Linked DNA regions of Homo sapiens. Changing the gene in region 3 together with the main gene of any one other region gives a genetic interaction. Each region holds a gene or a part of one and is shown on either strand. Other genes may lie near its edges.

The links.
Region 1: changes in PTAR1 (region 3) and RAB18 are lethal when combined (synthetic lethality), as found in Homo sapiens cells (one study listed by BioGRID).
Region 2: changes in PTAR1 (region 3) and GOSR1 are lethal when combined (synthetic lethality), as found in Homo sapiens cells (one study listed by BioGRID).
Region 4: changes in PTAR1 (region 3) and SYPL1 are lethal when combined (synthetic lethality), as found in Homo sapiens cells (one study listed by BioGRID).

What each region holds. Positions count from the first base shown.
Region 1 is NC_000010.11:27,500,300-27,507,956, forward strand, and holds the start of RAB18 (ras-related protein Rab-18), read left to right. Parts: upstream 1-4,004; 5' UTR 4,005-4,070; coding exon 4,071-4,138; intron 4,139-4,145; exon of another isoform or gene 4,146-4,425; intron 4,426-4,679; exon of another isoform or gene 4,680-4,793; intron 4,794-7,657. UniProt on the Homo sapiens protein: The small GTPases Rab are key regulators of intracellular membrane trafficking, from the formation of transport vesicles to their fusion with membranes.
Region 2 is NC_000017.11:30,479,654-30,487,448, reverse strand, and holds part of GOSR1 (Golgi SNAP receptor complex member 1), read right to left. Parts: intron 6,307-7,795; coding exon 6,192-6,306; coding exon of another isoform or gene 6,186-6,191; intron 3,236-6,185; coding exon 3,148-3,235; intron 2,787-3,147; coding exon 2,679-2,786; intron 1-2,678. UniProt on the Homo sapiens protein: Involved in transport from the ER to the Golgi apparatus as well as in intra-Golgi transport. It belongs to a super-family of proteins called t-SNAREs or soluble NSF (N-ethylmaleimide-sensitive factor) attachment protein receptor.
Region 3 is NC_000009.12:69,749,217-69,757,011, reverse strand, and holds part of PTAR1 (protein prenyltransferase alpha subunit repeat-containing protein 1), read left to right. Parts: intron 1-6,061; coding exon 6,062-6,231; intron 6,232-7,795.
Region 4 is NC_000007.14:106,108,989-106,116,822, reverse strand, and holds the start of SYPL1 (synaptophysin-like protein 1), read left to right. Parts: upstream 1-4,510; 5' UTR 4,511-4,611; coding exon of another isoform or gene 4,612-4,614; coding exon 4,615-4,683; intron 4,684-5,432; coding exon of another isoform or gene 5,433-5,510; intron 5,511-7,834.

The DNA.
Region 1 (7,657 bases), on a different chromosome or scaffold from region 3:
TACTAGCTGCTTCCTGAAGTGGGGTCTGGTGACAACACCAGTGAAGTCCAAGGGCATGCCTGAGCCCACAGCCACACTTCTGCTGTAAAATAAGTTCCTTGGTAGAAGGTGATATTATATAGATTGTAACAGAGAAGGTTGGAAAAGGGTCTTGGGTCAAATGGAAAAAATAGTGCAATGACCTTCTTCTCAGCCCCAGCTATCCTGTCCCACGGGCCCTCAGACAGAGTTGCTTGTGTCAGGCTGCAAGCCTAAAGTAGCTACTCCAGCTCTTGACCCTGACCCCTCTAATCATAGGGCTAAAACCCCACCCAAGTGGTCAAAATGACATTTCAGCTACCTTTTCCACAGAATTTACTTCTAACCCTTCTCTCAAATCCCCAAGCCTTCACCCAAATAATTAAACAACGAAATGAACTCCTCTTTAAACCAGGCATGGTATAATGTGCCTGTAGTCCCAGCCACTTGGGAGGCTAAGGAAAGAGGATCTTTTGAGCCCAGGAGTTTGAGTCCAGCCTGGGAAACATAGTGAAACCCTATCTCTAACGACAACAACAACAACAACAAAAAGTAATCTCTTCCTTGACTGCATACCAAAGCTCCTGTGCATATCAACCGAGGCAAGGAGAAGCAGTACCTGGAGAGGGTGGGGGTTGTTTCGGAACCTCAGCTCAGCCAGGGGCAATGGAGCTGGGGGCGGAGGTGGCAATGCTGTATGACTTCTCTCACTACCAACTCCTAAACTCTAGCCACAGACGCCTGTTACACTTGGACCCAAGCAGTCCTACATAAGCCATGAGTCACAGTGCTCATGTTGGTACCTGTTCACAGAATGTGAGTTCTGCAAGCAGCATTTCTCTTATCTTCATTACTGATGCCGAAGGATGGAGAAAAGTCAAAGGCCTGAATCTGTTTTTTTCTCTCATCTGTTGTCTATCTCTGGGGCTGCCCACTGTAGGCATGTTACTGACAGCAACATGGGATGGGCCTTCTCCATCACATCTCCAAGTGGTTTCGCCATTTCAATTTCTTCCTACATACTGGGCTTGCTCATTGCTCATCCCAAACTTCAGGTATTAAGAATATTGCCATAGACATTCCTTTATGAGGTGATCATATATTTGGATATGGTAAAAATAATTAATACTAGAAGATGGATCCACAGGGAAAAGGGCAGTCAGTTATGTCTGAAACCTAAGAAAGGATTTGGCTGTGTTTTCCAGGGATGTAAGGATAATAGTATATAGAAGAGAACACCTAGGCCAAATTGTTGGTTAGAACACCTAGGCCATCTCCTTGGTTCATTTTTTTAGTGTCTTGCTATCTGTCCTGAATCTTGGAACCACTGCTCTAAAAGAGGTCTGAAAAATTTTGCCTTCAAGGCTCACCTTTACATAAAATTCACTATGGCTGAAACGAAACTCATATTCCTTCTTGTTTCTGTCTTGGGTTTTCTCTCAGATTGGTAGTGCCGAGGCTTGAAACATTAGAGAAATGTTCGATGTTTTTCTTTCCCTTTTCTTTCCCCTCTTCTTCACTAAGCATGGGACAGTTATTCATTGTGTCTTTTAAGTACATCTCTTTATTGCCAGCCCCCATGTGGGGATGTCTTGGCAGTTGTGTATGTTGGCCTGAACCTCAGGAGAAAAATCTCAGCCAGAGATGTAAATTCGGGAGGCCGAGGCAGGGGGATTGCTTGAGCCCAGCAGTTTGAGACCAGCAACATAGCAAGACCCCATCTCTAAAAAAATGTTTTAAAAATTAGTTAGGCGTGGTGATGCATGCCTGCAGTTCCAGCTACTCAAAGGCTGAGGTAGGAGGATTACTTCTTGAGCTCAGAAGTTAGAGACCACCCTGGGCAGCATAGCAATATCCCATCTCTTAAAAAAAAAGAAAAGAAAAGAAAAGAAAAAGAAAGAGAGGAAATGGCCAAGAGATGGAGGAAATCCAAGAGAAAATGATATTGCCAAAGTACGTCAACAGTATTACAGGTTGCAAGAGATAGCCCTGGATTTATTGATGAAGTTTTTGTTTTTGTATTTATCTTGGTGTGAATAGCACAGTGCAATGGTTCTCACACTTTTTGGTTGTACAAATTATAGTATACTCTTAAAAATCATTGAGGACCTGAAAGAGCTTTTGATTGTAAGAACCCCAAAGAGATTACATCTCTTATTTATCCTACTAGAAATTAAAACTGAGAAAATTTCAAACATGTTAATTTACTTAAAAACAATAATAAACCTATTACCAGTTAATAGAAATGTTTATGAAAATAACTACTTTAAAACAGAACAAAATTGAGAACAGTGGCAATGTTTTACATTTTAGGAAATCCCTTTAATATCTGGCTTAATATCATAGAAAACCAGTAAGTTCACATATCTTGTTCTGCCTTCAATCTGTTTTGCTATTACATGTTATTAATATATAGCCTCTGGAAAACTCCATTATATTATCATCAGAGAATGTGCATGAAAAAATAACATATTAACTATGAAAATAGTTTGATCTTGCAACCCCCCTGAAAGGTTTTCAGGGATTTCTAGGGATCTCGGGACCCCAGGGCAGGAGAGCTTGACAATACTGTGAACCTCATAAATAAGATCTTTTTGTCATAATGAAAAGTAAGCTAGATAGACTTGACTGAAGTTTCAAGGGCTATCTGATGAGAAGTGGAGGTTGTTTCATTGACATTATTCTCTAAGGTTAGGAATGGACTCTACAACATTCATTCAATTAATTCATTCAGCATACATTTATTTAGCACATATTATGTGCCATGAAGTACTCTAGATACTGAAGACATACCAGTAGACAAAACAAAATATCCTTGCCTTCATGAGACTTCTAATAAAGTAGTAAAATATATAGTGTATCAGAGAGTGGTTAAATCCTATGCAGAAAAACAATGTAAAGAGGTCTAGAGAATGCTGGAGGGATTTGCATATTTCAGTAGAATGGACAGGGAAGGCCTCTTTAAGAATGCAACATTTGAGCGAAGACCTGAAGGAGGAGAAGCCATTGGGATATCTTTTGAAAGGGCTTTTCCAGCTATTTAACAAATTAATTTCTTAACATTTGAAATTTTATTTATATGTAGTCTTTAATCAAATATCCATTGTATATGACATTAGCTGCAGGTATAAGGAAATAAGACAAGAGAACTGAGGTTTATTGAGTGCCTGCCATGTACCAGGCACTGTGCTAAGTATTATGAATGAGGTTTGGTACCTTCACTAAGATTTACAACTTAATGCAGGAGGCAAGGTGTAGACATACACTTCCTGCAGTATGGGTGTAGCAGTTCTTATGAGGAAGGAGAGTTGACTTGAAGTTGCACCGCCAGAAGTAATGCACCTGACCTACCTGAAGTCTACGCCTCCCTTTCAAGATGAATTAGGGTGCAGAGGGTGCTCTCCACTATAACAGAGGGGAAGCCAGCAAGATAATACCTGATCACACCTTTTATAGAGCACTTTGGTTAACAACATGTCTTCACAAATTAACTCACTTAACCTTCATAACAATAAGAAGCAGATGTTCTAAGAAGTGTTACTGTGTCTCTCAGAGATGGAGAAAGGCTAAGAAAGCTGGGTAGTATGACAAGGCAGTTATAAGGTAGAGCTGGACCTAAATTTAAGATAATCTGCTTCAAGCACAGTGCTTTTCCCACCGCAGTGCAGCTGTTATGAGCAGCTGCCGAAATAAAACAGCTTGATATTCTCCTGACTGAGTCCTCCCACTGACTCAAAAGGAGGGTTAGGTTGAGGCTGGGGCGGAGCTAGACCTCAAGAAGAAGCCAACAAAGTCACACACAGCGCTCCCCACCTGCGCTTGCGCAGGGGAGGAACACGCAGTCCGGAAAAACGCCGGGGATTCTGGGTCGCGCAGCCGTGGAGCTACCTCAAGGCGGAACTGGGGAGTCCAGGGCTTCGGCAGCCTGAACACCCGGTGTGAAAGGAAGGTGGCAGACGTGGAGCGGCGCGCATGCGCAGCAGCTCACTCTGCTGAAGGGCTGAGAGGCGCACCCGGGCGGCCAGCTGGGCTCGGAGCGGAACGGGGTCAGGATGGACGAGGACGTGCTAACCACCCTGAAGATCCTCATCATCGGCGAGAGTGGGGTGGGCAAGTCCAGGTGAGGCGGAGGTGCGGGTCGTGACGAGGGTGGCTGGGCTCTTTCTGCCCCGGTGGCTGCTGTCTCCTGGGCCGCGACGGGAACTGTAAACTGCAGCGGCGGGCTCGGGCCGGCTCCGCTCGCGCCCTCCTCGGCCTCTGGGCCGCGCTCTCCCGCGACGTTTGCTTTCCTCTCCCCACCCGCGCCTGCCTGGTTCCCGGCCTTTGCCAGGCCCAAGTTCTCTGGGTCGCTCTCCCTCCTGTAGCGCCGAGAAAACACCATTCCGAGGGCCGCCGCTCGGCCGGCAGGTTTGCTGCGCGGAGCTCAGGGCGTGGCGGGCTGGTTTGGGCCCGAATCCGGCCGGGGGCGCCTTGCCTCGAACCTCTCGGGGTTCAGGCTGCCTGCCACCCCGAGACCCGGGAGACATAGCTTTCCCACTTGAGGGTTTCTGTGGGGCCTTCTCTAAATACATAATGTCCTCGGGAAGTTTCGTGACGCCTTAGGTCCCATTCCTGGCCTGTTTGGGCGCAGCTTAATGTCGATTCTTTTACTTTTTTATTAGTCGGCTGTGAAAGAACTGGATCTTGTGACTGCTGGAAAATTTCGCTTTAGTGTAAGGTCCGAGTGCTTCAGCCGTGGGCCACCTTTGAAAATAAAATGTAATTGTTATTTCTCATTTTGCCACATCCTGTGGAGACAGAAGATTAGTGTTGTGCTTTCATTTTTTACTTTTTCCTTGGGGAAAATAATATTGACAGTGGAGTTGAGTATAAGGTAAGACATGGATCTAGGTGGATGTTGCTAGAGGGCTGTGATTTCATCCAGGTCTTGGAAGAGAGTTCTCCAGCTGATGTCATTCTTGCCATCTGATTATGAGTAGGTTATGTTCAAGGCCGTCCTGATCCTTAAACCACATTTGCACTCCAGGGGCTGTAATCAGTTTCATATTTTAGCTATACCTTCTGATACACGTATCTTTCAAATAATTTTTTGTATTTCATAAATTGAAATAGCCTTAATTCTACAAACTAGAATGAAAGCTCTCCTCAAATAACTTGTAAAAGTCACTTCATAAAGTCTTACTTTTTAAAAGCTTCTTCAGAATTTGAAAGCTTATGTAATATATTCTGATATTATTTACTTATTTATTTATTTATTTTTTGAGACGGAGTCTCGCTCTGTTGCCAGGCTGGAGTGCAGTGGCGCGATCTCGGGTCACTGCAACCTCCGCCTCCCGGGTTCAAGCGATTCTCCTGCTTCAGCCTCCCGAGTAGCTGGGACTACAGGCGCGCACTATCATGCCCAGCTAACTTTTGTACTGTTAGTAGAGATGGGGTTTCACCATGTTGGCCAGGATGGTCTCCATCTTTTGACCTCGTGACCCGCCCACCTCGGCCTCCCAAAGTGCTAGGATTACAGGCGTGAGCCACCAGTTTGACAACACATTTTCATAGTGTTCCTCATGTAATGTCCTCTGTGTCTACTGGAATGAAGGATTTGCACATACCAAGGAATAGAATAATGAAATACTATGAGTTAGCAAACCAGCATGATTTGTCTGTGTGTGTGTAAAAGGCATGAGTAAAATTATTTACATGATCATCTATTATTGCACATACATATTTGAGTGTTAAAAAGTTAAACGTTGTCTTAATAGGAATTTCACAGCCTTGTGATCTTTCTTTTTCTTTTCTCCTTTTTTCCTTGAGATATCGTTCTCATTTAAGTTCAGGCATATGAAATTAGTGTTTTTGAAGTCAAGAATGGTTGGTTGTCATTTCATGTAGTTCAACCCAATACATGGTTGGTTAGCACTTTTTCTAAATGTATTGCATGGATGACAAGTTAGGGTATGTTAAAATTTTCTGGAAGGTTAACTGGAGTATATAAACAAAATTCCTCTGCTCTACCCGCTGTTTTTTTGAGACAGGGTCTTATTCTGTCACCCAGACTGGAGTGCAGTGGCATGATCATAGCTCACTGCAGTCTCAATCTCCTGGGCTCAAGTGATCCTCCCACCTCAGCCTTTTGAGTAGCTGGACTATAGGCACGAGTCACCATGTCTGACTAGTGTTTTTTTATTTTTTATAGAGAGGAGGACTCACTGTGTTGCCCAGGCTGTCTCGAACTCCTGAGCTCAACAGATCCTCCTGCCTTGACCTCCCAAAGTGCTAGGAACATAAGCATGAGCCACCACAACCGGCCCTACTTCTAAAATTTTTTTCATAGATGGGATTTTCCTATGTTGCCCAGGTGGTCTCCAACACACAGGCTCAAGCCAAACTCCTGCCTCATACTCCTAAAGTGCTGGGATTACAGACACAAGGCATGACACCCAACCGAGGTTCTCCTTGTAGAGTAAGGCCTGTTAAGTGGATTTATCAGTCTCCCTAGTTCATGCCACCGAAACAAAGAAACAAATTTACCGTGGGCCTAATCTGTTTTAAACTTTTTCCTCAATACGTAGCAATGGATTATCAACTGCTCGATGCAGGATTTTGTCACTTTATTTCTTTTGTGAAAGGATTACATATAGTGAGAAAGTTGTCTTATTTGTCTAGCTAGATATACATTATTGGCCTGTGTGATATGCTGTGGAAAACAATCTTAAACACTCTGGATAAGATGAGAATAAATGACTCCACTGAAATAGAAGTCTATGCCTTTTAAAGTGAATTAGTACAAAAACATTTGCTGTGGATATGATCTTAAAGGATTGTTTTAACCAAGTTTGTTTCTATTTCATTACAGAGCTGGAGCTAGTGGAAGTGAGATAGCACTTGTGCTGTTGGGGAAAACAAAGGATATGTTTAATCCGAATTAGTGGATTACTTTCTAGTGATTTCATAGTGTTAGAGTCTAAAGGGTATGTGATAGTAGTCAGGAGATCAGGATTATGAAACTGGGGCTGCCACTTGTGTGACCTTGTGTGTGATACTTGAATGCTGTAGGCCTTCATTTCAAAAGCGAGGGGGTTGGAATAGAAACCTCTCAGACCCTAAATGTGTAAGACTCCAATTCTGTGGCTAGGCCTGGTAAGGTAAAGAGTAGCAGAATATATCAAGAACTGGAAGGGATTAGAGAGACCTATTATCTAAATTGCTGTCCCTCCTTTGCCCCTTGCCTTCCCTTTTTTTTTTTTTTTTGGTGAATTTCATATGTAAATTTAAAAAATGCAGATTAGTTATAATCACACTCTGTTTATTATAAATTTGGTCACATCTAAGTGCCATGGTGGTAGTTACTCCTTCCATCTCTACTTCTGCATGGGAAACATTTTGCTCCTTTAACTTTGAAAATATGAGGGTGTAAATATACAATACTATAAGAATGGTGCTTCTGCCAGGTGCAGTGGCTCATCCTGTAATCCTAGCTACTCGGGAGGCTGAGACAGGAGGATCTCTTGAGGCCAGGAGTCCGAGACCAGCTTGGGCAACATAACGAGACCATGCCTCTAAAAAAATAAAAATAAAAAAATTAGCCGGCCATGGTGATGCACACCTGTCATGCCAGTTACTTGGGGGGCTAAGGTGGGAGGAT
Region 2 (7,795 bases), on a different chromosome or scaffold from region 3:
CTGTGTAGTAAGCAAATTAGCCATTCGTTATGGTTTCCAGTATCAAGTCTTATTTAGAAAGTCCTTTCTGCTCCAAAGTTTACAAATTTCACCTCTGCTTTATGGTTTCTTTTTCTATCCTTCTTGGATCCATTTGGAATTTGTTCTGGATGTGAGGATTGAGATAGAATTGTTTTTTTAAAATCTCTGAATAATTAAGCAATGGTTATAGTTCCATTTATTTTATAATTTCTCTTTGCCCCACTGATTTTAAACAACATCTTTATCAGAAACTAAAAATTTCCAAACATAATTGGGTCTACATATAAACTCTGTTTAATTGTTTTTATTTATTTATTTTTTTTCTCTAGTATCAAACTGTCTTAACTATTCCAGCTTTTTAACAGGTTTTAAGATCTGGTAGAACTAGGAACCCTCTACCACTTATCTTCATTTTCAGGTTGTTTTTCTTGGTTGTTCTTGTATGTCTATGATTCCAAATGAACTTTGGTGTCATTATGTCATTTGTTTTTAATTAAACAAACAACGATACAACCCTGCTGTTTCCACTGGGATGTCATGCAATTTAGACGAAAGTCTTCCTATCCAAAAACAGAATGATTCTTTCCTTTACTTAAATCTTGTTCTATGTCCCTCAGTAGAATTCTGCACATACAAGTCCTACACATTTCTTATTTAATTCATATATAAATGCTTTATAGTTTCTTCCATTGTATTTTCTAACAGGTTATCATTTATTTCCTATCATAATAGGAAAACTATTTGCTTTTATGTATTCATTTTGTGATCTACCATCTTACTGAATTTAATTGTTTCTAACTTTTTATCAGGTAATTTTCTTGCGTGTACTAGACATATAATTTTATCCTGCTACCTCACAGAAATTTTGCCTCTTCCTTTCCAATATTTACATCTTTTTTTTTTTTTTTGAAACAGTCACTCTGTTGCCCAGGCTGGAGTGCAGTGGTGCAATCTCGGCTCACTGCAACCTCCACCTCCCAGGTTCAATGTTCAAGCTATTCTCCTGCCTCAGCCTCCCAAGTAGCTGGGATAACAGGCACCCACCACCACGCCCCGCTAATTTTTGTATTTTTAGTAGAGAAGGGGTTTCACCCTGCTGGCCAGGCTGGTCTCCAACTCCTGACCTCAAATGATCCGCCCACCTCAGACCTCCAAAGTGCTTGGATAAGAGGTGTGAGCCACCATGCCCAGCATACATTTCATTTCTTTTTACTGTCTAATTGCACCATCAAGAACTTAAAAAACAACGTTATACATTTGTAGCGATCATGGGTATCCTTGTCTTGTTTCATACAATGGGAATGTTTTTATTGCTTTCTCTTTAAACACAATGCTAGCTTTTAACCCGATAATACATTTTTGTATTAAAGTATCTTTCTATTCCTACTTTTTTTTTTTTTTTTTTTTTAGATGGAGTCTCAGTCTTGTAGCCTAGGCTGGAGTGCAGTGGTGCAATCTCAGCTCACTGCAACCTCCGCCTCCTGGGTTCAAGCTTCTCCTGCCTCAGCCTCACAAGTAGCTGGGATTACAGGCGCCCACCACTATGCCCAGCTTATTTTTATACTTTTAGTAGAGACAGGGTTTCGCCATGTTGGCCAGGCTGGTCTCCAACTCCTGACCTCAGGTGATCCACCTGCCTTGGCCTCCCAAAGTGCTGGGATTACAGGCACGAGCCACTGCGCCCGGCCATCTATTCCTACTTTTAAAAACAGTTTTTAAAATTAGAAATAGTTGCTGACTTTTCTCAATATTAAAAATATTTGTGGCTGGGTACAGCGGCTCATGCCTATAATTCTAGCACTTTGGAAGGCTGAGGGGGTGGATTGCCCATACACAGGAGTTAAGAGAACAGCCTGGGCAACATAGCAAAAACCTGTGAACACAGGAGTTAAGAGACCAGCCTGGGCAATATAGCAAAACCTCGTGAACACAGGAGTTAGAGACCAGCCTGGGAAACATGGCAAGGACCTGTCTCTGCAAAAGCTTTTAAAAAATTAGCCAGGCGTGGTGGCATGTGCTTGTGGTCCCAGATGCTCAGGACGCTGAGGTAGGAGGCTTGTTTGAGCTTGGGAGGTTGAGGCTGCAGTGAGCTGTGACTGTACTACTGCACTCCAGCCTGAGTGACAGAGAAACCCTATCTCAAAAAAAAAAAAAAAATTGCCTTCCTATTTGTACTACCATATTTTTAACATATCCTCCATTTAAATCTTTAAAAGTTTATTTAGTTTTATTGGTGCATACACATTTACTGTTTTCTTAAACAATATACTAAGTATAGTAAATAATTCCCCCTCCATATTATCTTCAAAGCTAGCTGAAAGTACACGCTTACCCACCACGTTATTGTCTATACATGACCATTGGCTATTTCACTGTTACAGCTAGCTAGCTAGGTCTCCCATAGTGGAAGTATATGTACCCAGTGATGAATATTACTCAACTTCGCCAAGAAATAGCAAGAGCTATTAGATATTTTCAGAATTTTATAATGGTGACCCCAAAAAAAAGTAAAACAAGTCCCTTTAGCATGGCATTTATTTTCTCAGATTTTTCTCTTTGTCCTTTTAAATATATGTGCACATATCCAATGCAGGGATTAAAAAAAAAAAAACCCAAACTCCTGTGATAATGAAAACATCTCGAGCCCAATATATTACCTGCAATATGTCTCTATGCCGCTGTAATGTATGCATCAGGGCTGCATTCAAGGAGGGGACACCTGCACTGTTGGTATATTCTGCCATTTTATCATTTACCCCTGTAAGCTAGAAATAAAGAAAAAAAAAACAATCAAAATATTTTACTAAGCACTATAAACAGCTAAAAGCAAATTATTTGCCTATATGCCCTTTTGGTTGACAGCAAAACAAAACAAAACAAAACAAAACAAAAAACAAACAAGAGAGCAAGTAAGAATTCAGCATTCCCCCACATAATCCATAAAGACCAAAATAACATCATATCACCTGAGAATGGCTGTCATCAAAATTCAAGTGGTGTGGGGAGGTACACATATTGAATGGAATGGATAATTTCAATAAACATGTCTGTCTCAATATAATCCAGGATCCTACGTAACAAGTATACAGTTATTTGCAAAATAGCCATTTAACAGAAAGCACTTACCCTTGCCAAAAGTTGTTCAATCTCAATCGCCATTGTCTCAAACATTCTGTCTTGGCTTGATCCATTTAAAAGGGGTGTTGTATCAGAACTAAAAAGAAGTTCAGTTAAAGAGGATCCATTACTCAAATCAGTCCTTTAAAACATACTTAAAATAATAAGGTGATTAATAGGAGCCATAAAATGAATTATGGATTATGTTATATAGGGTCTGTGAGAAACGATCTTTTACATTTTTACCCCAAAGGAATTATGGTTCCTTCAACCTCAACATTACATTCTCTCTTCTTTCCTTGACTCTTACCAAGAGGAAATAAGATTGAGGTTTAAATGATCCACAGATTGGATAACTAGCTAACGAATACTCAGGAACTGGCTTTAAATCCAATATATACAGCCATGTCCTGCATGCTTTGGTACTAATCTTCTCCATTTTCACTTACAGTATGCAATCATCCTTTTGTTTTGTAGAATTGTGTTAAATTGCCTTTTCAAATCTGAATAGTCAAAAATCTATCTTTTTACAAGTGAAACTTAGGTTTGACAGATTCAAATTCTAAACCCACCTGTCCTCAGTGTTTCTTTTGCCTTTTCCAAAACACCACTAACCTTCATCAGGTTAGGTATGTATTAGCATCTGATGAGCAGCTCAATACAGATCAGAGTTATACTGGACACAGATAAATGCCCAGGCAATGACTATAGTCTCCAATCTTACTGAAGACTTTGTGCTACCCTGTGACAGTGCCTGGGTGTGGCAAATGAAAAGTATTAAATAAATGCTCTGTAGACTACTAATATAAATCCTCCTCTACCAGATATATGAAAAAGAACAATATGCCAATAGAATTAAAGCTTCATGAAGGAAGGAAAAAACTGCTCTGTCTTATTCATAGATATATGCCTAGCACCTAGTATACAGCCTGGCACATAGTAGATGCTCATTAAACTTCTGCTGAATAAATGAATGAACACGAGAGCAATCTCTACTACTGGTTATTCTATACTCATTGTATTCATATATTCATCAGGACAGTGTAAGAGTAAAGGGAAATGGCCAAACACTAATTCTTCACAATACTGGGATTCAGTTAAATTTAATTCATCTTATAGGTGGGTAATGATTCATAGACCTTGAAGTTCTCAAAATACAGAAAGTTAAAAAAAAAAAAAAAAAGAAAGAAAGATGCCTGGAATAAATAATATTCTAGTTATTGCTTAGTTGACTCATAGTGACATGCTTCCAACCTGGGCATCAAACAAGACACTTTAGAATAGACATCAAATCCTGATCCTCATGGCCTTAGGTTTTTATTTAGAAGGGGAGTTAGGCTGAAGTAATTCTACAAAGCCAGTTTCAGTTTGTGGTAGAATTTCTTGGGAAATGTTTTCAAGATAGTTTTTCCTTTAGAGGAATAACAAAAGTATTAGTTCATGAAGCACACAGAACATAGAAAATGCATAGAAAGAACATTCTTCATTCTCTTTACTTGCTAAATAAAGCCAAGCCCAAAGCAATGCAATCTATTTGATGTGTTAGTAATTTATTTTTAGATCCTAGAGTCAATGTTGGCCTTGCTGCCTTTACAACCAAGGAGTCCTTATGAAAAAGAAATAGTAATTTGGCTATAGTGTTGAAATCAGCTTTTTGTTCAAATGTATACACTATAGTAGGGTTTAGAGTGTGGGCTCTGGAGATAGATCTAGATTCAAATCTAAGCTCAGATTTCATTGTTTTTATTAGCTGACAAATATCCTACTCACTTCTAATCTTTGAAAAAGTATGTAAAATAAGTGTGGATTAACAACAACTCTGCTACCAGCAATTTCACCGCTAGGTATATAGAAACATTCTGCGTAAAAATGTTCCCAGCAGCATTTATAGAAAGCTCTTACCTAACATATAATGAACACTCTTATGTCAGCTATCAAAATTATTATTAATTAGCAAAAATTAGAAACAATGGCCATCATCAAATGGTTAAACTGTGATAGTCATAAAATACTACATATGAATTACAAATGAATATACCAGAGTTAAATGAATCCATAGCTGAATCTCAAAAATGTTAAAGAAAAAGTTGTAGAATAACTATATTATATATATACTATATAACATAATAGAATACTATGAATTGCTCAGGAATATAAACATGCAGTAAGAATATATGTGGATTATGGGGTGGGAGAAAGTGGGGTGCCATAAGGGGCTTCAGTGGAATGAGTAATTATCATTTTTTAAAAATGGGAGATAGGGTCATGGGGGTTCATGATATTATTCTTTGTAACTGTCTTAAATATTGCCTAATTAAAAAATTTTTTTTTATTTCTATTTTTTTTAGAGACAGGGTTTCACCATGTTGCCCAGGCTAGTCTTGAACTCCTGGGCTCAAGTGATCCATCCGCCTCAACCTCCTAAAGTCCCGGGATTACACGCGTCATCTACTGTGCCTGGCTACTCCCAATATTTTCTTGAAACAAGTGGATGACTTACAGAGAGCATAAGCTTCAAAGATAAGAATGTATTTTCCATACATTTAATATGGTAATACACTAGTTTCCCAAAAAAGTACCAAAATTAAAGATAGCTTTGATAATTAATAACAAGGATACACAGTGCATTAGATACCCTCTAATACAATAAACACCAGAAAAGCAGTATGTATACCTGGCACCTGGGTAGATCCACAGGTCCATTTAGCAATTGAAAAACACAAGAAATACATGCCACACGGGCAAATCAGCCACCTTTTCCCTACACTGGCTGAATTAGACACTTATATTTTTGATACAAACTTATTCTGAAGTTCTAGCAGGTTTCTTCTGACACTGTAACAATCTTTGCCTAAGGATTCCAAATAAATGCTAGTCTCGAGAATTCAGAAGAATTTTAATAAGTCACTAAAAAATAAAACAATGAATGGCAAAACAAAACACCAAAAATTCACCAATAGACCAACTTACAGAAGTTATATATTTTAGTTTATTTTTTAATGCTTTAAAAACACAGTTAAGGCATAGGAGACAGAATCTGGTAGTACCTATACCTGTCGCGTCTTCCATCTCGGGTACTGCTATGACTGTAACTTGTACATAGTTTGCTGAAGGAAACTAGTTTCAGGTCAAGTTCATTTTCCAGCTGTCGAGCCTGTTTCCTGAGATCTTTAACAAAATTATAACAACAAATAATTAGACATAAAAAGTAGACACAAAAATCACAGCACCATTCTAAAGAAAACAAACTATGAAAATGATCATATACTGATCTTGTTACCCCCATAAAGAAAAGTGTTGGCTGGGCACGGTGGTGCACGCCTGTAATCCCACCACTTTGGGAGGCCAAGGTGGGCGGATCACCTGAGGTCGGGAGTTTGAGACCAGCCTGATCAACATGGAGAAACCCTATCTCTACTAAAAATAGAAAATTAGCCAGGTGTGGTGGCGCACGCCTGTAATCCCAGCTACTCGGAAGGCTGAGGCAGGAGAATCGCTTGAACGCAGGAGGCAGAGGTTGCGGTGAGCCAAGATTGCGCCATCGTACTCCAGCCTGGGTAACAAGAACAAAACTATGTCTCAAAAAAAGGAAAATAAAAGTCTTAAAAGAAGGAAACCAAGGACTTGCCCAGCAAAGCAGATTAGTCACTTATAAACTTCAGAGGGGGCAAGAAGGGAAATAGTAATGGTAGATGCAACTTCGCAGCTTTACTCCAAAGATGGCTAGAAAACAAATGTTGTTCTATCCTTCCTGAAACTATTTGTATAGCAATAACTAAAATTCTGCAATTCAGAGAAAAACAAGAAGATAATACAAATCACAAAGGAACTAAAAATATGGTTTATGACCAGCATTATCAACTTACCAGTTAATGTTATAAGAAAGAAGCCATTATTCTTTTGAAAGGGATTTTGCTTTTTATGTTCCAAAGCTTTATTAGGCTTATGAACTTCTTTTCATAATAGCAAAATGACTTACCTTTTTTTTTCTTTTTTTTTTTGAGATGGAGTCTCGTTCTGTCACCCAGGCTGGAGTGCAGTGGCATGACCTTGGCTCACTGCATACTCCACCTCCTGGGTTCAAGCAACTCTCATGCCTCAACTACCTCCCAAGTAGCTGGGACTACAGGCACACACCACCATGCCTGGCTAATTTTTGTATTTTTAGTAAAGACGGGGTTTCACCATGTTGGCCAGGGTGGTCTTTAACTCCTGACCTCAAGTGATCCACCCACCTTGGCCTCCCAAAGTGCTAGGATTACAGGTGTGAGCCACCACGCCCGGACCAAAATGACTTCTCAATTGAACATAAAGAAAAAAAGTTACCACAAAAATTGCCTTTTTCTTTCTTTTTTTCTTTTCTGTTTTTTCTCACAATGTTGCCCAGGCTGCTCTCGAACTCCTAAACTCCAGTGACCCTCCTGCCTGGGCCTCCAAAAGTGCTAGAATTACAGGCATGAGACATCGCACCTGGCCAAAAACCGCCTTTAAAAAACTTACTGAGGCCAGGCGCAGTGGCTCACGCCTGTAATCCCAGCACTTTGGGAGGCCGAGGCAGGCGGATCATGAGGTCAGGAGATCAAGACCATCCTAGCTAACACGGTGAAACCCTGTCTCTATTAAAAATACAAAAAATTAGCCAGGCGTGGTGGTGGGC
Region 3 (7,795 bases):
TGTGCTGTTCCATATGGTAGCCACTAGCCATAGTAGCTATTGAGCAATTGAAGTGTCCCTAATATGAACAGGGACCACATTTTAAATTTTATTTAATTTAAATGGATTTGTACGTAGTGGCTCCATGTGCCTAGTGACTACTGTGATGCATAGTGCAGGTGTAGATGAGACCTAAGACTAACTGCATGAACAGTAAATTAACCCTCCAAAGTAGTTTATAGTAAAAGTTGGATAGGAGCATGATGAGCAAGTGCTATGGGAGTCTAATAGAAGTGGAGAGGAGGCTGGTTATGTCTCGGATAGGGGTGCTAGTGGAGGTGGGTTTTAAGCCAAGTATTAAAGTCTGGGTAGGATTTGTAGTCTCAGAGGGAGCCAGAGACCTCCACAGGGAGCAGTGAATTGACCTAAACAAGCAAAGTGTGGCTGAGAAGGTACAGTAGGGCCAGATTATGGAGATCCTTGACTCTCATTTAATTTCTTTCATTCCATTCATACATTCTGCAAAAGAGTACCTCCATTTGACAGGCACAATGCTGGTCTCTGGGTATACAGGGTTAAAAACTGGGTGGTTTAATGAACAAACCACACATGGTCCCTATCCTAATGGAACTTTAATCAGTCAACATACAGATTATGAAAAGAGTCATAAAAAGTAAGAAGGGTACTTAGAATAAAAACAGGGAGACCCAATTTAGATTATAAGGTCAAGAGGTTCTTTCTGAGGCAATAGCATTTAAACTGAGTGAGACATGAGGGGTGAAGAAAAGCTGGCTCAAGGATGTACACTTCTAAGGCAATGGGTAGGCACCAGTGAACATTTTTTAGTAAAGAATGATGAAAGGCAATTTTAGATCGTCTGCAAGGTGAACTGAAGAATAGAAAGCCAGAGTCTACTGGGCTTCTTATACCTGATTTTTATTTATTTAAATAATAGTGTAGTATAGTTGTAAAAATTTGAGTTTAGAGTTTGATAGTCTAAGCTGTCAAACTGGATTTGAGTCTTTGCTTGTCGTTTATTAACTGAGTAGACTTAGACAAGACTCTTCCTCTGTAAAATGGGGTCAAAATTCCTACTTTATGAGATTATTGTGCAGAATAAAATATATGTAAAACCTAACCGTGCATGGCAAGTAACAATAAACACTAGTAATTTGTGTAGCTTTTTCTAAATAAGGTCAGTAATATAATTTCAGTGAAACATAAGTTGATAATCTTTGGAATTAATGAGAAAGCCTATAAGGTTTCTGAAATATCTAAATCACCAGGAGAATTTTAATTATCAATATGCAACGGTCAGTTCCTTTAGATATATTTTACTAGCTTTCCTTTTTGGTCATGCTGGAAAGAATTCCAGTTCTTTTGGGGGGTGGGAGCAGAACAAAATGAAAATAACTACTATTTAGATTTAAAATGTTTTTACCATTTCCTGAATCCTTGGACTGTTTTCTGTTTGGTTGCTCCACACTATAGGATTCAGTTTGAGTATTTGGGTACCATCCATCCCTCCCAGAAGGTAAGCTGGTTGATGCAACTTTTGTGGATAATAAGTGGCTCTGTTCTGGTTGATGGTGTTTCTGAGAAGTATAGACAGAGAAGCTGTCTAAACATAAGGAACAAAGTCAGTATCAGTGTTACATGAACTGTGAACATCATCTGGAAGCCAATGAATGGATCCCTATTGTGAAGTGAGGCGCTCAAAGAGATGTATCATACTTTGATCTTAAGTAAATGTGCTGGTTCGTTCCACATTGCTCTGCCTTTGGAGCAGTCTGTGATGAAGGTGACCTAAAAAGTGAGCACCATTAGAACTTGATTGCTGTCCCAAACCATCATATCTTTAAAAATCCTATGATCTTCTTAGTTATGCAGGTAATTGAATACCTTGTTAAATACCAGGAATGTAAATGGCCAGAAACCTAACAGTGTAAAAGAGTGAAATTTATTAGTAGTTCCTCTCATAAGACTATTTTGTAAAGAAATAACTAGAGATATGTTTGATATTTATAGCACATTCATTGCAACCATTAAAAATATCAAAATTGATTATGTGGGAAAATGTTTAATGGGAATTGCTCAGTTTTTTTCCATAAAGGATTATAGAATATGTTCAATATGATCCCACTTTTTGAAAATACTCAGGAAAAAAGGATGTATACCCAGCTGGGCACAGTGACTCACACCTGTAATCCTAACACTTTGGGAGGCTCAGTGGGAGGATCACTTGAGGCCAGGAGTTTGAGACCAGCCTGGTCAACATAGTGGGACTACATCTCTACCAAAAAAAAAAAATATATATATATATATTAGCTGGGCATGGTGGTGCATACCTGTAGTCCCAGCTACTCAGGAGATCTGAGGTGAGAGGATTTCTTGAGCCCAGGAGTTGGAGGCTGCAGTGAGTGAGGATTGCACCACTTCACTCCAGCCTGGACGACAGAGCAAGATCCTGTCTCAGGAAAAAAAAAAAAAAAAAAAAAAAGATATATACCCAAACATGTTAATAGCAAAACAGGGATTACAAGTGACTTTTAGGGTTTTTTTTGTTTTGTTTTGTTTTTCCTGAGTTTTCCAGTGTTTCTTTAGTATGGAATTAGAACTTAAATTTCCAGAAAAATAGAAGGAATTGATCTAAATCCTGTTTTGCTCTTTGTTCTAGTGTCAGGGGTTTGGGGCTAAGTATTAGGAGGCCCAGATTCTTAACTTAGCCACTAGCAATATGACCTTAGATAATCCTCATAAACCTCACTGTACCTCAGTTTCCTCATCAGATGAAATGACAGAGGAATGCAGTCCCTTCCAACTTTAAAATGATTTTGGAAGGAATCCTATTCGAAATTGGCTAGAAAAAAGTGGACTGTGACTTAAGGGATGAGACACAGAAGTCTGAAGTCAAACACACTATTATTTGGAAGCTTACTGACCTACCTATGTTTACAAAGTATGTGTAATGTTTTTTAGAAAGCAGCATAACACTGTGTCTTAGGGTCACATAACTTGACAAAGGCTTAAATTCTTTGCCTCGGCTTTCCATTATTAACCAATGAACTCTACTGGTGGATCTTTGTCTAGCACTTCATAGTTTGCCACATTTTCACATGACATTATTTGGTTTCCATAACAGGCAGGGAAGATACTATTCCTGTGTTTCAGATGAGGATACTGATGGCAAGTGACTTGCCGAATTCTCATTGCCTGTCAGTGGATAGAATGGAAACTAACTAGAACTCTGGACTTCCAATCAAGTACTTTTGTCTTTACACCCTACTACCTCTTCATGTGTTTTTCCCCCTAGTGCTCTACATTATCTGTTAAGACTGTTTTTATTCTCCTCACATGAAAATAGCTGCTAGGTTTCTCAGTCATAAAATTTGAAAGCTGGGTGAAATCTATCCCATTTGCCTTACTGGAGGTATAATACAATTCTACCATTTTACAAATGAGGAAACTGAAGTCTACAGAAGCCAAAATGACCTGATACTGATATGTATGTATATGTGTGTGTGTATATATCTATTTCCATCCAGGACTTGGACACATGCTGTTTTCAGTATACTTTATTAGGAGAAAATCAGAGATAATGTTCTTTTAGAGGGACAAGAAGTGAAAACTATTAATTTGAATATTATCACTAAAGTACCAGGATAATCAGCCTTTCAGGAAGCAGCTATTGGGCACCTGCTATATCCAAGCCATTCTTATTTTATAAAGTATTTCTTGAAAGAACAGACAGTCAAAGCAGTGTGTTTTTTAATTGTGCAGATGGCTCTTTTCTGTAGTTTAGATACCAAATTATTAGCTGGGCATTTTAATCCTAGTTTAATTAGTGAGCAAGACAGGTTTTTATATTGTGAATTTAAGTTTAAAAAAAAAATCCCCCCCAAAAACAAACCATACCCAGAAACAGGATTCTTTTATTCTTGTTACTATAACAGTTATATTGTTGACTCTTGCAGTTCTTTGAAGTGTTGTAAGTAGGTTATTATATCTCAGAGAACAGAATTTCCTGAAATAATCACATTGAGTTTATTTACTTATTTAGTTTTACTTTATTTTTTAATATTCTTCATGTAGTAAAACACAAACATCAGAAAATACCAGAGATTCAGTCATATATTAGTCAAGTATAGCTAGATATGGCTAGGGGTCATAATAATGAATTAGATAGATTTCAGGATACTACCAAATAGAGATGCACAAAATATATTTTGAAATACTGGGCATTGACCTCAGGTGCTCTTTCAGCTTTGTCCTTATTCTTCCTACAGGACTTTGTTTATATTATTGGAGTAGTAAAGTGGTAACATTTTATTATGGATATTGACACAGATCCCCAGCAAGACTTTAGCTCTTTGAAGTCTGAGACCACTTTGCTTTATTCTTTTTGAATTTTAGAACCTAAGAAAGCACCCAGTACATTGTAGTTAATCAGAAAACTTATGATAGTATTGATATAGTATATCAAAACACCTTTGAGTCAACGGAACCAATTGTAAGGATAAAAACCCATAGATCCCACAGTCTTCTTGAGAGTTAAATTAGCTTGAAAGAATTGTTAGTGTCTTGCAACCCCTAAGATATCCTTTTTATTGATAAATCCCTGTGCCACTAATGAAGTGATCAGTAGAAAGTAGATTACCTCTAAGCTATTCAGTTTAGTTTCCAGGAGGGGTTTTATTTTAAATCCACAGCCTCCTACCAATTTGTGATAGTGGCCCAACAAAAAGACAGGGTGTTTCTCCTACTTTGTAATTCAACCAATTTCCCTCTTTTGGGTCTATCAAACCACTGTGTTCTTGGTAAGGGGATGCCAGGGACATAATACATAATGTCACACACAAACTCTGAAAACCAGTTCATTATTCTGCTTTTTAAAGACATGTTTAAAATATCTATATAGACACTCTAAAAACATTTATTTCAACTACTCTTATTGTTAAAAAGTTTCTTGTTATTCATTAATTAAACAGAGGACATTCTGTTTGAGAAAGGATCCTTTGTGTAGGCAAGAATTATAACTTCCTTTAGAGTTGAAAGGCATGTGAATGTGTTTTGCACAAATTTTTTACGTTTGCTGGTTCATTTACTAAGTAAGTCAAATGCCCTACATATTGTTTATTAAATCTCTGCCTTTAATGTAAATTTTCAGCTTAAGTTGAGGTGGATTGAGGGATATAGATGCTACCACAGAGGAAAATTATTGAATTCTGAAATGTATTTTGTGTTTTAACATTTATTTGGGTGGTTTTTTAATTCAGGAAAATATAAAGAAGAAAAAATGGCCCAAAATCTCACTGATAAAATAACGTTTTTTGATACTTTGTTTCTGGTCCACATGCATTTATTAGCAAGCAAGCATAAACACATTTGTTGACATTAAAAAAATAGAAATACATACAATTATTAGATAATTGAAACTGTATAAAAATAAAATCCTTCCTTACCACCTTTCTCTCTCCAAAAATTTCTTGTTATCCTTCCAAGAAAATTTTTAATGCATCTATATATCTTCTAAAGAAATTATACAAAAGGATTTGTGCTGTACACTGTGTTCAGCATTTTGCTTTTTGTTTTCATTTCATATATCTTGGCAACTTTTTTTATGTCAGCATATGCAGATCTACCTCATTGTTTTTTAATGGCTTGATTATGTGGATGGGCCTTTTTTTTTTACTAGTCTTATATTGATAAACATTTAGATTGTTTCTAGTTTTGTTGCAACATTGCAGTGAACATCTGATTCACATATTTTGGCATAGGATAATTTCTGAGCAGTTGAATTGCTGGATCAAAGGGTATGTTCCTTCAAAATTTTGAAAGACTTTTTTTTAAGTTGCCATCCAAAGGCAAGACCAGTTTTCACTCCTGTCTACAGAGAGTACAGCATACTGGTTTTCTCATACTCTTGCCACTATTAGCATCTACCAATCCCAGTAAGTGAGCTAAATAATATTTGTAAGGAAGGGGGAAATATGTGGGGTTTTTAAAATACTCTGAAATTAGAAAAATGTTGAAAAGGTTAGTATCCTTATTTTTAATTCTTTTTTATGTTTTACATATTAAGAGATGAAATTGGCCTGATCCCATGTCCTGAAGCTAGGTATAACCGGAGTCCCATAGTCCTGGTTGAAAACAAACTGGGTGTGGAGAGCTGGTGTGTCAAGTTCCTTTTACCATATGTCCACAACAAGCTCCTTTTGTACAGAACAAGAAAGCAATGGCTGAACAGAGATGGTAAGTATGAATCATATTTTCTTCATTTGGTTTTTAGAAGCGACATGGAATATAGTAGGAAGAGCCCTTCTCTGAGTGTCAGCATTCCTGGATTCTAGTTCTGCTTCTTCTGTTCACTGTCTCGGTGGGTGCTAACCTTTCTGTCAAGTGAGTAGTTTCTACTCACCTGGACAAATTTTACAACCACAGTGATTATATAGAAGCCCTCAAGCAGAATTTCAGGGCACCTCCTGTAACCAGAGCAGTTCAGATTTTATCAGTTTATGTATTGGGGTCATTGGTAAGATTTCATTTGAAGGAAAAAAAAAAATCTGAATGTCACTGAAGAAGACTCTAGTCCCTATAGGCTCAGTCTCTGGTTTCTAATCCTTTAGTATTTTTATAGGCAGCAAAACTCATTTTCATAGTAGTCCAAATGAGATAATGTAGGCATGATAGTGGTAGTGATATTATGAACCAGCCCAGTGATTTATGGATGTGCCATTCCACTGCAAGTTCCAGTTGAGCTCTGGCCGTTTGTATCCTGTTCCTGTGCTGAAATGAGCAAAACAAAACTATCCGGCATTCACTTCTTCCATTTCTCTCAGACAGTTTTTTTTTTTACTGCATCAGACAATCCCTAATCATTCCATCTGGTCTCTTTTCTTGGTGTTCTGCCATATTAAGCCTCCATGTGCACAAATTCTGTTTATCATTGTATGCCCACCTCAGGTCTCACTTTTTGGGAGAAGACTAATTTAAGACCATGTCCTTTACTGTTTTTGTAAAGCTTCTTCCCCTTCCCATGTACGGCAGTACCTTCAAAAGCGCTCAATATGCCTGGAGGCTGATTTTGAATAAGAACTTTGTTTCCTAGAGAATTTTAGTTGCCAGTTTGGTAGCCATTACCAAGGGTCTACTCATACCAGATGCTGTCCTGAGTACTGTGGGGGATAAAAAGATGAATAAATACATGGTCCCTTTATTCAGGAAGCTTACAGTTGAGTGATAATCTCTTTGGGGGCGAGAGATGTACAGAAGAGTGTTGCCTAATGTATGACATACTGATTTCCTTGAATTTCTGTCAGCACTATCTGTAACATACTGTCATTAATTGGTTAATAACACTTTTCCCTTTTTATACCATAGAAAGGGACTCTGAAGGTTTAATGAGCAGTGTTTTCTATTTTCTGTGTGACTGTTTCACTCAGTCCTTTGTTATATATTTTCTTATTAGAAGGCTGTGCCTAAGTTTAGCCATAGCCCAAATTTATGGCATACACTTTAAGGCATGGGTTTAGGGATAAACTTAAAGGTAAGCAAGTTTATCTGTTGTTAGACCCTCTTTAATTCTGCATTCCATCACCGTGCTGTAGTTTTCAGTAACACTGAGGTAAAAAGTAACACCATATGACTCCATCAAGTTATTTTTTGCCAAACAAAGCTGTACTGTTTATATTCTGGTGCACAGAAATGCATAATCGAACCAATGTATAACTAACTTTAGTTAGGGGATAGAATGATTATCTTATAGAAAAGAAACTGAATTTTAAAAAGTGAGAGGCTATAGTTGCCCATTTATGTA
Region 4 (7,834 bases), on a different chromosome or scaffold from region 3:
TTCTACATCTGATTTTGTGTTTTCTAGGATACAACAATTTCAAACCAAAACAGTACTACAGCAAAGGTATCAGCTACATAACTTTCCTTTGAATGCAGCAGAACAAAATTTTAGGCTACAAATGCTGTTCTCCCATAGTCTCATAGCAACCCTGACCAATTTAAGTCCCAACTCAGGGATTTAGGTGTACATAACCTCCTGACCGACTAACAATCCTAGGTAGGGCCAACTATACACCCCTGGTCAGCAAGAAGCAGTTGGAAGATGAGACCTTTAACCACATGCCAAAGATTAGTCATTGTTGCTGTCAGGGTGTGAAGAAAGGTAGAGTCCTAATTCAGGAGAAGGAGTCAGGCTGGCAGGACCAGGGGAAAGCAAAACGAGAAAGCAGATAGATAAGCTATAAGTCTGCCTTTCTTCATGGTCCAGGACACATAGCCCTCATGTGTAAATCACTCACAATCTTCCTGTGCCGAGCTACCACCTGACTCTTGGCTGACAGAAAAATGCAAGTTAGCTCACTGCAACCTCGGCATTACCAATACTGCACAAAGTCTTCTTCAAGCGCAGAGCACAAGCACCATCCTATAAAATCCCTAGCAAGCTTTTGACTCTTTGCAGTCAGCTCCTCTTTCGCTGACCTGCCTGTTGCACCCTTGCAATACATTTTCCTACGTTCTCAAATAAATCTGCCTTTCTTTACCTACGACTGTCTTGGTAAATTCTTCTTACTGCCTGTACCACTGGCCCCAGATAGTTTCTGATCACCTGTGACACTCATTACATTAAATGTGGTTTCCTGGATTGGATCCTGGGGGAGTAAAAAAGACATTAGTGGACAACTGATGAAGTTTGAAAAATTCTTTAGTTTAGTCAGTAGTAACACATCAATACTAATTTTTTTTGTTTTGACAAATGTATGATGGTTATAGAAGATGTTAACATTAGGGGAAACTGGGTGAAGTGTATACAGAACTCTTTGTACTTTGCAATTCATAAATCAAAATATGTTTTAAAATGAAAAGTTTAAGAGGCCTCAGATTACTTTGAGATTAATTTACTGAGCCTATTAAATCCATCTATTGTACAATTTAAATAAATTTGGTTATCTTAAAATTTTTCTAAAATGATTATTGAATTCATTAGCGAAAACAAAACACCTATTTGTGTTTATAAGCAAAAGTCAGGTTTTGAATTTGGTATTAAACAATATCTTTTCAGAAAAGGAGATAAATATTGGTTGGGAATGAGTTACAAAGTCTCATCTTGCCAATAAGATGACCAAAACTTTGTATTCCCATTGAGAAAAACAAAAAATATTATAGTTAGCCAATGAGATGTCTAATATAGTTAATATATGGTTGACTAAATATAGTTTCCTTTCTGGCCTTCTGAGCATTCCTAAATCCCAAGTGTCACAGTCTGGCACATGTGTTCAAAGCCACAGAGAGAAAGTAAAACAATGACAAATTATGTAGGTAACTTAGCCATAATTATACCACCACAGATAAAGCTCAATAATACTACCTCAGATAGACAGAACCATTTTATATTACAGGGATTCTTTTCCAAATAGCCCTGGTAGAGTAGACCTGGAACATGTTGTTCCCAGAGCATCTGGCTCTTTCCTCAGATTTGAGGAACAAATCAGAAAATGACCAGTGTTGTAGTCAATGTGATACAGTCATCTGAACATTCTTCCCTGATTTTGAACAGTTGTGCCTTCAATGAGATGCTATTGTTTAAACACTTTTGTTTGAGGAGGATTTAAAAAAAAATCACAATTATCTTGTTGCCCAATCAGATCTCACTGGCTCTGCCAGTCACGGCCAGTTCCTTCTCAGGAAGGTAGGCCCCTGAGCTCAGCTGACTGGCAGAAGCAGTGCTAGGCTGTGACTGAAGGTGAGCAGTGGCGGCTCACTTCTGTTTCCTTCTGCTCAAGAGAGATTCTGCGAATGAGTTCTGATAAGTGACCAGATGTGGTTCTGCTCACCCTCGGTGGTCTCCATCTTTAAAATCGAGTGCCACAGGGCCAAGGAAGGAACCTTCTTAAAGTTCAAGGAGTTACTCTAGCACTGAAGGTTTCCTGAGGAAATGTAACCACCATGCCTTCCACTGGTGGGCTTGAACAAGAAGCAGGAGAGAAAGTGAGGAGAGGCAGACAGAAGCAACAGAAAGTTTAGCGCGGAAGTTGAGAAAGGGCCTGGCCAATTCCAATTTCTAAGGCCTTCAATAAACAAAAAGAAGAAGAGATGCCAATATTGGTTTACTAAGTCATGGTATGTTTTAGATCTTTAATTAATAAAGCTGCATGTGAACATATCTCTAATCTGTCAAGGCATATCTCATTTTGAAATAACATTAAGAGCTGGGCGCGGTGGCTCACGCCTGTAATCCCAGCACTTTGGGAGGCCGAGGTGGCGGATCATGAGGTCAGGAGTTCAAGACCAACCTGGCCAACATGGTGAAACCCCGTCTCTAATAAAGATACAAAAAAATTAGCCGGACGTGGTGGTACGTGCCTGTAATCCCAGCTACTCGGGAGGCTGAGGCAGGAGAATCGCTTGAACCCGGGGGTGCAGAGGTTGCAGTGAGCTGAGATCACGCCATTGCACTCCAGCCTGGGTGACGGGGCAAGACTCTGTCTCAAAAAAAAAAAATAATAATAATAACATTAAGAGTCTAATTTGAATATTCGTGAATATGAAGCTCAAGCTAAATAGTCTTACTATTCACTACTCCGTCCCCAGGTGCCTACCCAGAAGACCGCAACAGAATGAGAGTAAAAGCTTAGAAAAACGGGCTAAAGAGAACAAAAAGAGAAGTACTGAGAGGAAGATACAGAAACAAAGTAGAAAAAAAAGGAGAGAGAGGAAGCTGGAAGACCTGGAGCACCGCTCATCGTGGTCTCAGACGCACCAGGTAGCAGTGTATGGTCACCTTCCACTCACCTAGCCCTAAGGGGTATCTATGATGCTTTGTTGCTTAGTGGGAGAAATCTGCAACCATCCATTAGGAACCCGCTGCAACCCCCCCACCTCCCGGTTCAAGCGATTCTCCTGCCTCAGCCTCCTGAGTAGCTGGGATGACAGGCGCGTGCTACCACGTCAGGCTAATTTTTTTGGTATCTTTATAAGAGACGGGGTTTCACCATGTTAGCCAGGTTGGTCTTGAACTCCTGACCTCACGATCCGCCGGCCTCGGCCTCCCAAAGTGCTGGGATTACAGGCGTGAGCCACCGCGCCCAGTTCTTAATGTTATTTCAAAATGAGATATGCCATTAGGTGCTCATTGAGCACTGACTGTGCTGGGGACTGAGGAACGGGAGCCAAGATAAACATAAAGATTGTCTCTGTCTGCATAGAAAATGAAATGTATTTTTTGCACTCTCTGGACAGCAAACAAGGAGATAGGTCTCGAAAGAGAAAGGGTTCGCTTACTACAAGGACGTTCAATAACAGTTGTCAACCCTGACGGAATAACCTCAGTGGCAAGTAGCCTGCAAATCATATTCGTGCTTGAAATTCAGGTAAGTCCTTGGAAGCTGGTTTTTCATATACACGAATATGACCACATTCCAGCTGTCCAGGAACTTTCCAGGTACTGAAGAAGCCAGGAAGGAGATCACACTACCTTGGGGCTCCCGTAACTGCGTGCCAAGAGGAAAGTATCACCTAAGCCGAATCTTAAAGGGGTCAGCTTCTTGAAGAAAGATACCAACGATGCCTTAAAAAGAGGACTGTCGACCGACAGCGTAGAAGAGGTGAAAGTGTAGGTCACCGAGGGCCTGTCCGGCCACGCCTTTCCTTTTAGGTATAAACTTACTTCATTTTTCAACCATGGCTGCGATGGTAACTTTGAAAATAAACCTAATTTCCATACGAATATTTGGTGATTCACACTTTCGAGGCACCCCACAGCACGGTAGCCAGAAGTCTGTTGTTTTGCAATTTTAATCAAAGGCCCCTAACACATGCCTTGAAACACAACTTCATCTGTGCCAATACATTATAAATTCATAAAAAAGTTGAGATCTGTTAAGGGAAGGAGAGGTCAGCTTCGGTGTAGTGAGCTCAGCTGTGGTGAGCTCGGGGTCAAGTGAGGGTGTCTCTGAGGCCAGCGCCCCCAAGCTGCGCAGGAGCGGGCGTGGGCGCCCCCGGGTCAGGGCTCTTCGCAGTCGCGCGGGTCCGGAAGCGCGGCGCGGGCCCAACGAGCGCACGCGTACACGCGTGCGCAGGGGAAGACCGAGTGCCAGGGGCTGAACCGCAGGGAAGGGGGCGCGGCGCACGCAGTATGGCGCCCAACATCTACTTGGTTCGCCAGCGGATCAGTCGACTCGGCCAGGTGCGGCCTGAGGAGAAGCCTCCCGGTCTCCGCCCCGGCCCGCCCCTCGCCTCCCCAGCCGCCCCACTCCGTTTCCGCCCCAGAGTCTCAGCCAGCAGCTCAACCGCCGCCGCTCCGCCCCGCCCCGCCCCACGGCCGCCCGGGCCCGCCTCCGAGCCCGGCCAGCGCGCCAGCCCCGCCTGCCCTTCCTCGCCACCGGGCTGCTCTGGTCTCGTCGGTCCCCTCCTCCGCCCCGTCGTCCTGACTCTCTCTCCCTCCTTTCCTCAGAGGATGTCCGGCTTCCAGATCAACCTCAACCCGCTCAAGGAGCCACTCGGCTTCATCAAGGTCCTCGAGTGGGTGAGTGCAGCCCGCGCCGGCCAGGCCCGCCTGCCGCTCGGCGCGGCGCCCTAGGCGGGGAGACGGGGACCTGCGAGCCGGGACGCAGCCCTGCCGCGCGGGCTTTGAGGCCGCCGCCCCGGGACTGGGAGTGGACGGCAGGGAGGGCAGGGAGGCCGCGGCCTGGGCCGCGCGGGGCGGAGACGCCGCGGCGGGCGTCGAATCACGAGCTCCTCGGCCGCCTGGCTCCCAGGGGAGCCACCCTCCCACACCGGAGCTCCCCTCTGGGTGTCCCCGTGGAGTGGGAGTTCAAATTTCCCCTTGGCTCCACTGCCTCCCGCAGAGGAAGGGAAAACTTCCTGCTGCGGTCTAACCGAAACCCGGCGGCCGGCGTCGCGCTCTGCGGAGAGGCTCAGCGGTTACGTCCCTGCCGGTGCCCACTCGAGGTCTAGCTCCCTGGGAAGCCGATTTTGTCTTGTAGACGTGATTTGGCGAGCATTCCGTTCTTAATTTGTTTTTAAGATGGGCTCCGAGTTAAAAATAGTAAAAAAATAAACTGTGGGCCAGGGAAACTAAAGAAAGTCCTTTTAACAAAACGCATCGAGTCAGATCGGTTCACTTAATAACACGTTAGGAATGGACATCGAGTTTGTTTGGGGTATTTCCAAACAACATCCTGTTTAGAAAGTCAGCTTTTAGTCCTTTCCTGAGAACACTCACAATCATTAACATCAAAGAACGCTTATTAATTCGACCTTGGCAATGATCAGTTACTTGGAGGAGTTGGTGAATATACCAGGCACTGCGGGCTTCCTTCAAACTTCGCGGCCCACTACATATTTCTGCAGGCAAGTTGTGTTTATAGACAGCAGCATTTACATCCATAGCTTTTTCGCCCTTTTCCTTAGTGATAGAGTGGTGAAGAAGAATAAGAACTTTCAATTTCCTGTTCTAAATAACCTACCGAGGATGTTTTTAAAAGCAGCGTAGAAACTCAGTTTCTCTGATGGGTACCTAATGTGATTTCCTACTTGGACCATTGTAACCGCGCAAGGGGTTAGGCAATTTCACCATTCACTGAACATTTTGTGTGTTTTCTGAAAACTGAAGTAGTGCTGACTTCACACAAATGACTACTTGAAAGACGCATAAATAAATATACTTGATTTTTTTAAACCTAAGTCCAGATTTAAGTATAAAGAAAACCATGATTAAAGCATTTAAAAATTGCAAGAGGAAAATCTCATTAACGAGGCTAATCAAATATGAACGTTAAGAAAGTCTTATATCTAGATTTAGTCTCATTGAGGATTATAATTAAATGTATAACTAATAATTTAGATTTCCACTTAAATGAAGAGGCAGTTGTTTATATCTGTGCTTATATTTTTTGTCAAGTTTTTAAACAACTGTAGACTTAGCTTTTTCCTTAATATTTCAAGCACTAGTGATAAGTTCATTCGTGTTTTGATGTATTTTGAAAAATATCCCTTTTTAAGCATCTTACAGAAATACTTTCAGTTTGAACAGCTTGTTATTACACAGGAGAGCCTTTTATGAAAAGACTACACATTGTTAATGGTGTGGTAAATATTTGACTATTTTATACCAGATCTGTACTAAACACTAGCATACCACATGAATAAAACATGGTCTTTTTCTCATGATCTATTAAGGATGAAGGACATACAAAATACAAAAATGCCATGTAATAAACTGTGATAAAGGTGTATGCAAAGAATAGTAGAAGAAATGAGGGAGAGAGCATTTGCTTGGAGGAACTAGGGAGGACTTCATAGCTGAGAGAACACTTGAAGGATGGGTACTGGTTCACTTGGGGAGTGGCTTTCTAGGCAGAAGGAATCTTATGTTCAGTGGAAGGAAATGTTGAAGCAGCATAACCCTGTATGAGAACTTAAAAGTAATTGGGGGTTAGTTGGAATATATGCTAGGTTGGAGGGTACGGTTTGAGATTGTTCTGAAAAGATTTCAGAGGTCGGCTGCTTCTGGGGTTAATCTTTGGGAATCTGGGCCCTTTCCTTAGGAAAATGCATATGTGCAGGGTATGGAATATTGGAGTGTTTATTCCATTCAAGCCCAGAATCCCTGCCATAGGGGATGGGAACTTAAAGGCTTTAAACAAGTCAATGATACGACTAATTTTAGGCACTCATAATTCCTCAATCAATCGATTTCTCCCTCCAATTCTGACCTTTCCAATCCATCCCTCTAACTGCCGACAAAATGAAAATTTCTAAAAGGATGAATTGGAAAGGCTAGAATTGGAGGAAGGGAAATCTGTTGATTGAGGAATTATGAGGGCCTAAAATTAGTTTCAGTAGGACTGAAGGGGTTTACAAAAGGGGGTTACAAATTAGAATATATATGGAAGGTAACAAAGAGGGAGGACCCTAAGATGACTGCTGTCTTTCTGACTTCGTTGCCATTAGCATATTCAAGGTAATGTCATTAAGAGGAGGAGGAGCAGATTTTATGGGAAGTCAAAGGTTTCAGATGTATTGAGTTTGTGGTCTCTTTAGATCTTTTGGAGGTATCCTATAGGATACAGCTATATATATGGATCTAGAATTTAAAATATGAGTTTGGGCTGCAGATATAGCAGATATCTGCCTGCAAAGGAGAGAAGGAATGGTTAGGAAAATTGAGGGAAATAATGCCTTGGCATCACTATTAGAATTTCAAGAAAAGAGTACCCCAAAACGTAAGGTGCAATAGAATGGTAAAGTAAAATAAGGACTAGTTGATAAAATAAGGACTAGTTAGCAAGAGCAGTTTCAGTAAAATCAAAAAGCCAGATTTTAGTAGGCTGAATGAATGTGTGGTAAGAAAGTGAAGACAGCATAAACCGCTGTTTGACTGTGAAGATGGGAGAAATTTGGTGGTTACAAAAAAAAGCCACTAGTTCAGCTTACAACTCAGTTGCTTAAATGCATTCTCTGGAGACAACCATTGTATTTGGTATGCAACAAAAGTCTTTATTTGCATTTCCCATTTTATCCTACTGACAAGAGAACTCAAGGGTCAAGGTTTAATAAAATTTTTACTGCTTCATCAGACATTCTTAAGTAAAACTGGTGGGGGTTTTTTGTTCTTTTTTGTTTTTGGTTTTTTGTTTTTAACTGCAAGTATGTGGCAGTGAAATAGAGTTTGG